2 separate regions of the Homo sapiens genome follow, and region 2 is linked to region 1. The links come from fine-mapping of genetic effects on gene expression. A gene starts in region 1. The other region holds a variant in brackets. All regions are shown on one strand. Distances are between the middles of the regions. Region 1 holds the start of ADAM9 (ADAM metallopeptidase domain 9). Region 2 overlaps ADAM32 (ADAM metallopeptidase domain 32).

Region 1 (5,385 bases):
ATTATCAACAGAGTAAAATTTCATTGTCTTAAATATTTATCTATACATGATTTCAGTAAGAGTTGCCCTTTTAGTCTTATTACTGTCAGGTTTATTCCTCTGTGTCTGATTTAGTACAAAACATGCCTTCCCATCATTCTCTTAACATCTGACCAAATCTTGACTTGCATTATGTGGCATAATAGGATGGCGAGTCCATGGTGGGGAGGAGATACATGAACTTCATTGGTTATTTTGAGAGATTGATTAGGAACTGTACACTCAGCTTTAGGGATATTACTAATAAACCTTAATAGCGTTTTTCCATTCCAAGAAGCCACTGTTAACCAATGGCTTCCGCTGGAACGCTTTAATGTCCTACAAAGACATATACCGGTAGACTCTATCTGTCTCCTACGGACATGGTGGAACCTGTTTGCCTGGAGAAAAGAAATGTCATTGGCAAGAAAAGCTCTGCCCCAAATGCATGTGTAACAAAGATACTGCCCAATCCATCACCAGTGTTGCAAAGTGCACAGACTTCCTTTTGCTCTTTCAGGAAAGGTTCATGCCTTGAAGGAGAGTCAGGGGTGACATTTTAGTTTCAAAATCTGTCAGTGGCCAAAGGAACCAAAGACAGGTTGGTCTTTGCACCTGGGTGGTTTTAGCACAGAGATTGCTCCTTCATAAGGAAACCAAATATCTTGTTCAGTCACTGACCCTGGCCATACTGGAAATTTCCAGTAACGGTCTTTCTGAGGAAATTCTTCAAAAAACTTTGTACCTCTTATACTTTTATGTAATAGCATTCAGACATTCCTATTTCGTTATCGAAGGGTTTGCTCTTACGACAAAACAAAAACTCACCTTGAGACAACCATAACCAAGTTCCTGGGATGCAGTTGCATTTCCAACATGATCCACTGGGTCTTCACATTCTATAAATTCATCAGGTCTGTAATTCACCAGTAAGATCATGATCATCATCATACGGTCTTTGCAAATCGCTGTTTGCATGCACGTAATCAAAACGGGCAAAAGACATTTCTTCATCAAGTTTTCTGGGGTTCGGTTTCACCCTGCTGACCCCTTTCCAAGCCAATTAAACTGAAGCACAGCAGGTCAAACGGACAGCCACCAAAATGAACCTTTTGTTGGAGAAGGGAGGTGTTTCTGGTCCTGTTTCTATAAGGATTCTACTTCTGCCATGGTTTCATCTCTTCAGTAGGCAAACAACAAGATTCTGGGGGCAAAATTTAAGCCAAAGTATTCTCAGTCCTCTTTGCATTTCCCAAATGCCTTTTCTTGTTTGATCAAAAAGAGATGTTAAAAAATGGCGTGATTCTGCAACGGTAAGAATATTGATTGCTTTTTTAAAAGATGCCTTGTAGGCAGAGACAAGTCATTTACTCCATTTATGCCTTACTCAGTACTGGCACCGAATCGACCGACTAATACTCTCCTTGGGCTAAAGGGCGCAGGGCAAAGAAAGCACAACCTTACGCCCTTCTTCCAGAGGCTATATGATGTTACTCCTACCCAGTTTTCCTCTTTGGGGATCTCAAAGCCTCTGTCACTGACACACAAGAGTTTTCTCTGCACGGGCTGTGAGAAACCTGGTTCATGATATTTGCCTCCGGAACGACCTCAGAGAGGCAGGGTCTGAAAAAATGCAGCGTCCCCCCAACCCTGCCTTCCCTTAACACCCATATATTCCTGGCACACCCTCCACGTCCACCCGCCTCGACCACTGGTAGCTTACAGGTAAGAGCAGAGGATGACCGGAGAGTGGGGGTCGCCATATTCCCAGCTCGCAGCACCCCCGGGGCCCTCCGGCTGGGCGGCGCCAGCGGATGTGAGCTCAGGCTCAGCGGTCGCATTTTGCGAGTGGCTCCGAGACACACAATGCAGCAGAAGTAAATTCCCCAGCAGCAAAGCCGCCTGGCCGCACAGAAGTAAGTAACTAACCGGGCAACCACCTAGCACCATCTTCCCGGGCACAGGAGCGGAGACCCGGCCTCAACCACAACCCCAGGCCAGCAGCACAGACCCAAGAACTGCGTGGTCAGGCCTTTCCGCGTAGCCCCGCCCGCGTAGCCCCGCCAAACAGCCAATGGACGCGCAGCTCGACGCTCCGCGCACCTCCGCCAACCAACTAGAAAAGGTCGAGCAGACGGGCGGGGCTACTCCGCCCTCTGCTTCTGCTTCTCGATTCCTCTTCTGGGTCTCATGCTCCTCCTTCTTTTGCGCCGAATGCGTTCTCCAATCGGATCCGTCGACCCCCCTAGGTGGGCGTGCCCGGCAGCCGACGGGGCGGGGCGGATATGACTGGCGGGCCGACTAGTGCTGGTTGCCACCGCCGGTTTAGAAATCCTATTCTCGCGCCGGGGACTGGATTTTTCCCTACGTCAGCGCAGCTAGGCGATGTCGGGAGCGAGCTCGGACCGAGGGCTCAGTTGCGTCAGTGCCGCGCGCGTGCTCGTCGGGCGCGCGTGCTCGTCGGGCGCGCGCGCTTCCCGGCCAGACTTGGGGCCCCGGCAGGGTTGGAAAATGATGGAAGAGGCGGAGGTGGAGGCGACCGAGTGCTGAGAGGAACCTGCGGAATCGGCCGAGATGGGGTCTGGCGCGCGCTTTCCCTCGGGGACCCTTCGTGTCCGGTGGTTGCTGTTGCTTGGCCTGGTGGGCCCAGTCCTCGGTGCGGCGCGGCCAGGTGGGTGTCCGCGCCCCGGGTCGGTTGGGACGGCTGCTTCCTAGGGACGGGGCGCTCGGAGTGAACCTGTGGTGCCTGGGAGTGGAGGGGCCCGGCCTGGGGATCGGACCCGGGGTCGGGGGGCGCGGCCGCTCCAGGTGTGTGCGGACCGGGGTCGCACCCGAGGCGCGGGGTTTGGCGCCCCAAGCCCTTCTTGGCCCGGGTCCTCTGCCCGGCACCGCTTCCTCCGTGTCCTGTTCGATGGAGCCGTTCCCAGCGTCCCCCCATCCCTCGCCGCCTCGCGCGACCCCGGGTCCCCCAGACGCCCCGAAACCCGCTCTGGGGCGGGCGCTGACCTCGGCGGGCCGGAGCCCTGCAGGCTGGGCGCGCCCGCGGGCGTTCAGTCCTCCAAACGCCTGCAGGGAGGGAGCTGGCTCTCGCTCGTGGAGTTAATGTCGCTTGGAAAGAGACTGAGAGATGAAACTTTTGCTGCAGGTTATAATTTGAAATTTTGACGTTCATGGTATCCTTGGGTCAACACAGCTAAATTTAATGGTGGAATAAAGGTGGGTGGGAGGACGCTCATTTCTCTTGGGTCATTTTTGTAGTAAGAATATTTTGTAAACGATGTGCTACCTTTCTATAGCCAAACCATTCTTAAAAAATCTGTGTTTTTATTGGGTTCGTACTGTGTTAAATCCGGACAGATAATCCCTGCTCTTTTGAACTCACAGGATTATTGTAGGAATTAAATCATTTGTGTGAAATCGTTTTTGAATTGTGAAACTGCCCTTGACTATGTAAGATACTTGTATTGGAGATGCCCAAACATAGTGGAAGCAGATTGTCAGCACGCTGGCGTCTTTCTGGAAACAAGTTGTTTATTTTGGATTTTGTATGATATAATTGTTTGCATGGCTGTATTTTCTCTATCAGCGACAGAGGATGATGGAGAATGGGAGTTTTTACTAAATCATTGATTGAAAGTTATTCAAAGGTGATGATAGAAGATTTCAACGCAGGACTGTTGACCTTCAGGAAACTAATTACTTGTTTTTCTTATCTTTGGCTGCTTTATTTGAAATTAAGTAAATTTGCCCCAGTGTGGAAATGTTGAAACTCTGACAATGTTTTGAATGGGAAGTTGCCAAATTTCTTCTGGTTAAAACTACTTTTCCGGTGGTATTCTAGATGGTTAACACTCACCGATGTTTAAGGTGAAGACGATTATACATCCGGAGTTTTATTAATCTGTGATTTTTTTTTGTGTTTGTAAATGTAAATAAGACTGTATTTTTAAATGTTAATATAAATTGTCAGTCATTACCGACCTGCATTAGGTGAGTGGAATATCCTGATGGTCTTTAACTGTGGTTTTGGCCAGCTCCTCACTTCGGCATGTGTATGCCCCTTCAAAGTTTAGCCACCGTTTATGGAACTCCTATAAACACCACACAGTTGATTGTAGAGGGGCAGAAGGTGACCAAATATGCTAAGCGCATCTGAGAGATGTTGGGGAAGATTTTTAGAGAAAATAATATTTGAACTGGGCTACATCGGTGATTTTTCAAGTAGAATAGTAGATACATTCTAAGCAGAGGAAAGTTTTTGCAAGAGTATGGTGGGGCGGGGGGCGTATGAAAGAACATGACTTTTTAGGAAATGATAAAAATGTCAATATGTCTTCATGCAGACTATAAAAGGGAGGGATGGAAGATCAAACTAAGGTAGGTTGTTACCAGTTGGGAAGAGTCTTCTATGCTGAACTAAGGGGTTTGGACTTCACCCCGTAGGAAGTTCTTTGGGCAGTGGAGGTTTTAAGTAGGGGTGCGACCTAATCTCATTTTCTGTTAAGAAAACGGGCAACACGGTGGAGGATAGAATCTAGGAGGGAGAGACTAGAGGCTGGGACACCGGTTAAGAGGCTTTTGTAATAGTGTGCAGTGAGTCAACTCTTGTTTCTCTCGGGGAACGTTCATACAAAATCAGCTGACCACATTTTTGCAGTATAAGGTGTTTAAAACGTGCACTGAAACATTTTCCAGGATCGAAAGAGGAATTTGAGGTACCAGGCACACGTCAGTTACATTAGGAGTTAATTAGGTTTTATAGGATTTTTACTACCTTTTATAACATTGTCTCAATGAGGAAATGCAGTATAATTTCCAAACAGCTAACTTTCAGTAAACTTTTTTTTTTTTTTTAAACTGACAAAGGTAACTGTGTCATTGTAAAAAATAAGCGGAATCAGGTATGAAACCTCTTCTGATTTTCTAAGGTAGTAATTATGAGGAACAGATTTAGAATTTTTTTTTAAACAAAGACTGGCATTCTAAAGAAAATGACTTTGAAAGCTTACTCATGGTGAGTCACTGTAAAATCATTTGTGTAGTAAGAACTTAGGTCCATACTAATCTCGTTTTCAGATGCCAGCAAAATATTTGAATTTGATATGTTTGTGTTTGTGCCGATAGGAGAATGTAGCCTTTTACATTTAAGAATGATTTGGTTTTCAACCTTTTAAGTAAAAAAGAAAGCATATATAATTAAAATATGTACAAACCTAGTTCCTGGTTTCCAAGACAGTTTTCAAAAAGCACTTGAAGCTTTAACTTACCAAATTTATATTTGCTCTTTGTAAAAAATCTGGGTTTATAATAGAATTTATTATGGAATCCCCCAAAAGATGCAAGCTCTAAGTAACTGGAAGCTTTTTC
Region 2 (5,385 bases), 240 kb after region 1:
AGAAATTAAAATAAAATCTTATTTAATTCCTGACCAGATCTTTGCTCATAGGGAAATATAAAAAGTGTAAAGTGTAGGCTTTAAAGATAGATGTTCATAGATTTGAATTCTGACTCTGCCACTTACTTGATAGATGATCTTTAAGAAATAATTTAATATTATTAAGCCTTGGTATCCTTAGATATGAAATGTATATTTCAATAGCCACTTTTAGTGGTTTTATAGTATAAATAAAGCTTACTGTAGGTAAAGTATATAGACTCATTAATATTGATTTATTTTTATGCATTCGAGTCATAAGTGCCATCTTGATGGAGGTTTGGGCCAGGGAGCTCAGTGGATATATTTAGGTCATGGAGCAGAAAAGAAAAAGCCTAAAAAATGCAACACAACCAATAAAGTCTTTGAGATGATTTGATAAGTAATTTAATAAGAATATAATCTTTTTAATAACCCAGACAATTCTTCTCAGAAATAATGTGTAAAAACAAATTTTACTGGGTAGTTTTTAATGATAGTATAAATTATATATGATGAAACATTCTTAGTATTGTTTCTGTAAGTTAGTGTCCTTATTCAGTGGGGAATCTATCTCAATTTCAACTGAGCCAGGCAGACAGTAGATACTATATTCCAAAAAGACTTGTTAGACACATCATCATGGTCAAGGACCAGCGAGAAGACTCAACATATTAAAAGTTTAAAAGGGTTAGATTGTTTGTATTTAGAAGAGGTTTATGATGCCATTTATCTGAAGAAGGTTATGCTGTGCTTTAATGTTTAACAGGAAATGATTTTCACATATGTCATCTCATTTTAAACTAAAAACAAGCTCTAATGTTACTTGCTTTTTCTAAAATAACATTTTTTAAAAAAGTATTATTGTACTCGTGTAAAAACTGCAACTTAAGGAAATTGAGATTGCCATAAATAATGGAGTTGGGAATATATCTTCAGCCCTCTGATTATTATACTTTAAAGTTAGAAGAATTATGTCAGAATTTTTTATACGTTCCATAATATAATGATAGACAACTCTGGTACATTTTAACAAAAATTTCTATTATCTTCATTAAATACTTATGAGACTCTAATGATAGTTCATATTTTATGAAAACAATATATGCCATTATTATATGGAGTTAATTTTTTACTATGTAAAACTTTTGTATGTGCAATTAATACAAGATATTCTTTGAACTGTGTACTCAGGGATAGTCTTGTTAGATTTCATGGTGTTATAATGAAAAGTGGTTCTTTGATAATAATTATTTATTTAATAGCCAATCTTATTTTATTGATATCCTCCACTTTTCTGCCCTGAATCATTAAAAAAATTATTTTAAAAAATATACTTTACATTTTAGTGCCATTTTAGGTTCACAGCAAAAATTGAGTGAAAAATACAAAAAAGTATTCATATACTCTTTATCCCCTACTCCCCCACAAAACCTGTACCACTGTGCATAACCTACATCAGCGTGGTACATTTGTAATAATTGATGAGCTTATATTGACACATCATTATCACCCAAAATTCATAGTTTACATTATGGTTACCTGGAAAATCCCCATACTCTTTGAGGCTAAATAACACATGGGTCAAAGAAAAATTCTCAAGAAAAAAATTAAAATATTTTGAACTAAGTGAAAATGAAAATATAACTTATCAAAACTTGTGGAGGACACAGGGAGAAAAATGGCAGATAGGAGGCAGGACTTACTTGCAGCTCCCACTTGGATGGACAGCGTGTGGAGACTCACATTATGAACTTTTGCTGCAAGAACCACTGCAGGAACATAACAGGAAAACTTAAAGAATTCACAGACCCTTCAAAAGAAGCAGCTTGCCACTACAAACTTCGTGAAACACCCATAAAACTGTAAATGCCCAATATGTGAGTGGGGGAAAGTCTGGCTCTGGACACACATCCTTACTGGAGAACCTGAAAATCCAGATCACAGGAGAATAATTTAACCTTACCTAGAGCTGAAATGAATTTAGAGAGCCGAGCAAACCATAAAAGTAGAAGAAGCAGCGGGAAGAGCCTTGTAGGCACTCCCAGTTCTCAGGGAAGCCCTGGGAAGCGATTTCTGATTTAATCTGACAGCAGTGCCTGGGGAGGACAGCCAGTGGAATTGGGGAAGGGCCACAAGGATAAGGAGACTTCCAGCTCAACCTTGTAAAAATTTTGACTTAGTGTGAATTTTCCTGGGCAGATGTGGTGGGGTGAACAAGAAGTGCAAATATGAGCACAGAAGCCATGGCAGGCAGGTAGAAGCAAGGCCTGAGAGCTCTGCTTGCTTTCTCAGTGGGGAGGCTTGTAGCCTGGAGCAAGATCTCAGCCCTGTGCACCAGAGGCCTGGATATACACTGGGCTGTGTTGGCTGCTTGGGGAGCATGGTGGGAGTGACACTGGCCTTACTGGCTGCATAGGAGCTGGGTGAGACCTGTCACTGCCGGCTTTCCCCCACTTCCCTGGTGACCTGTATGAAGCAGCAGAGGCAGCCATGATCCCCCTTGGAAGGTAACTCCATTGACCTGAGAACCACCTCCCCCAATCCACCACAACGGCCATAGCAAGCCCTACCCAAGGAGAGTTTGAGCTCAGACATGCCCAACTCTGCCCTCATCTGATGGTCTTTCTCTACCTGCCCTGGTAGCTGAAGACAAAAATGACAGTAACTCATGGGAGCTCTAGGGCCCACCCATCACCTGAAAAACTTGAATACTTACCTGGGTGACCTTAGGGCAAGCTTGTATTCCCCCTATACTACTACAGCTGATGCTCTCTTGAAAGTGCTGTCTCTTGGCTGGAGGCCAGCCAACTCAAGCCATTACAGCAGTTCATAACAGAACAACCCTGCTCCAAGGAAGGAAAAAACAACAGCTAATTCCACTGCCTACAACATTCTGGCTAACCAGAGGTCCTGAGTCTGTCCACATAACAACTTCATTGCTAGCATAACCAGTCTTGAAGGAAACCAGTGCACTAAACAAGACTATAACCAAGGACTCTCACAGAATCTACTTCACTCCCCTGCTACTTCCACCAGAGCAGGTGCTAGTATCAATGGCTGAGAGACCTAAAGATGGACCACATCACAGGATTCTTTGCAAACATTCCCAAGTACCAACTGAAAGTCCAGTAGCTCCACTGCGTGGCTAGACCCAGAA[GA/G]GCAGTAATGATCACTGTGGTCTGGCTCTCAGGAAGCCCTATCCCTAAGGGAAGGGATAGAGCACAACATCAAGGGATTACCCTGTGGGACAAAAGAGTCTGAACAGCAGCACTTGATTCCCAGATCTTTCCTCTAACATAGTCTACCCAAATGAGAAGGAACCAGAAAAACAATTCTGGTAATATGACAAAAACATGGTTCTATAACACTCCCAAAAGATCACACTAGCTTACCAGCAGTGGATCCAAACGAAGGAGAAATTTCTGAACTGTCAGTAAAAGAATTCAGAAATTTGATTATTAAGCTACTCAAGGAGGCACCAGAGAAAGGTGAAAAACTACCTAAAGAAATTTTTTAAAGTACAGAATATGGACAAAAAATCTCCAGAGAAATAGAGATCAGAAATAAAAGAAATCATAACTTATGGAAATAAAAGACTTAGAGAAATGCAAAATACACTGGAAAGTTTCAACAATAGAATTGAACAAGTAGAAGAATTTAAGAGCTTTAACACAAGGCTTTGGAATGAACCCAATCTGACACAGACAAAAAAAATAAAAAATAAAACAATGAACAAAGCCTCCATGAAGTTTGGGATTATGTTAAATAACCAAACTAAGAATAATTTGTATTCCTGAGGAAGAATAGAAATCCTAAAGTTTGGAAAACTTATTTGAGGGAATAATCAAGGAGAACTTCCCTGGCCTTGCTAGAGATCTCGACTTCCAAATACAAGAACCTCGAAGAATACCTGGAAAATTTATCACAAGAAGATCATCATCTAGGCACATGGTCATCAGGTTATTTAAAGTAAAGATGAAGGAAAGAAGCTTAAGAGCTGGGGGCAAAAGCACCAGGTAATGTATAAAGGAAAACCTATCAGATTAACAGCAGATTTCTCAGCAGAAACTCTACGAGCTAGAAGGGATGGGGATCCTATCTTTAGTCTCTTTAAACAAAACAATTATCAGCTAGGAATTTTGTGTGCAGTGAAACTAAGCTTCATAAATGAGGGAAAGATAAAGTCTTTTTCAGACTAACAAAAGCTGAGAAAATTTGCTACTACCAAACCAGCACTACAAAAACTGCTAAAAAGAGTTCTAAATCTTGAAACAAAACCTTGAAATACACCAAAATAGAACCTCTTTAAAGCATAAATTTCACAGGGTCTCTAAAAACAACAACACAATGAAAAAATAATCAAGATATTCAGGAAACAACCAGCATGATAAATAGAATAGTACCTCACATCTCAATACTAACATTGAAAATAAATGGCCTAAATTCTTCACTTAAAAGATTCAGAATGGCAGAATGTATAATAATTCACCAAACAGGTATCTGCTGTCTTTAAAAGACTCACCTAACACATAAGGATTCACATAAACTTAAGGTAAAGGGGTGGAAAAAGATATTACATGCAAATGGACATGTAAAGTGAGCAGGAGTAGCTATTCTTATATTAGACAAAACAGATTTTAAAGCAAAAACACTTAAAAAAGACAAAGAGGGGCATTATATAATGATAAAGGGACTAGTCCAATAGGAAAAAAATCACAATTGTAAATACATATACACCTAACACTAGAGCTCCCAAATTTATAAAACAATTCTTGATAGACGTAAGAAATGAGATAGATGGCAACACAATAATAGTGGGGATTTCAATACTTCGTGACAGCACCGGACAGGTCATCAAGACAGAAGGTCAACAAAGAAACACAGTACTTAAATTATACCCTAGAACAAATAGACTTAACAGGTATTTACAGAACATTCTGCCCCAAAATGCAGAATATGTATTTCTATTCATCAGCACATGGAACATATTCCAAGACTGATCATATGATAGACCACAAAATAAGCCTCAATAAACTTAAGAAAATTGAAATCATGTCAAGTACTCTCTCAGACCACAGCGGAATAAAATTGGAAATAACTCCAAAAGAAACCCTCAAAACCATCCAAATACATGGAAATTAAGTAGTCTGCTCCTGAATGATCTTTTAGTAAACAGTGAAATCAATAGAAACTAAAAACTTCTTTGAACTGAATGATAATAGTGACACAACCCATCCAATCCTCTGAGATACAGCAAAAGCCGTGCTAAAAGGAAAGTTTATAGCATTAAATGCCTACATCGAAAAGTCTGAAAGAGAAAAAATAGACAACCTAAGGTCATTGTCATTGTATTAGTCTGCTTTC

Evidence for each region. PIP is the estimated chance that this variant, and not a neighbour inherited with it, causes the effect.
Region 2: its variant is the best candidate, but not a certain one, in a credible set for the expression of ADAM9 in whole blood (INTERVAL, PIP 0.52).

The regions. Positions count from the first base shown.
Region 1 is chr8:38,994,472-38,999,856 of GRCh38, forward strand. It overlaps ADAM9 (ADAM metallopeptidase domain 9), which reads left to right and starts at 2,502. Exons shown (of 22, transcript NM_003816.3): 1 at 2,502-2,689. The coding sequence starts at 2,593. It overlaps TM2D2 (TM2 domain containing 2), which reads right to left and starts at 2,038. Exons shown (of 4, transcript NM_078473.3): 1 at 1,742-2,038; 2 at 847-934. The coding sequence starts at 1,968. RefSeq lists enhancers at 1,166-1,688, 1,689-2,210, 1,819-2,008, 2,169-2,268, 2,329-2,378 and 1 more and a silencer at 2,709-3,138.
Region 2 is chr8:39,235,143-39,240,527 of GRCh38, forward strand. The region is part of intron 16 of ADAM32 (ADAM metallopeptidase domain 32); the gene reads left to right. Among named protein-coding and RNA genes, the nearest start is that of ADAM32, 130 kb to the left of the region's middle. The variant GA/G (reference allele first, on the strand shown) is at 3,179.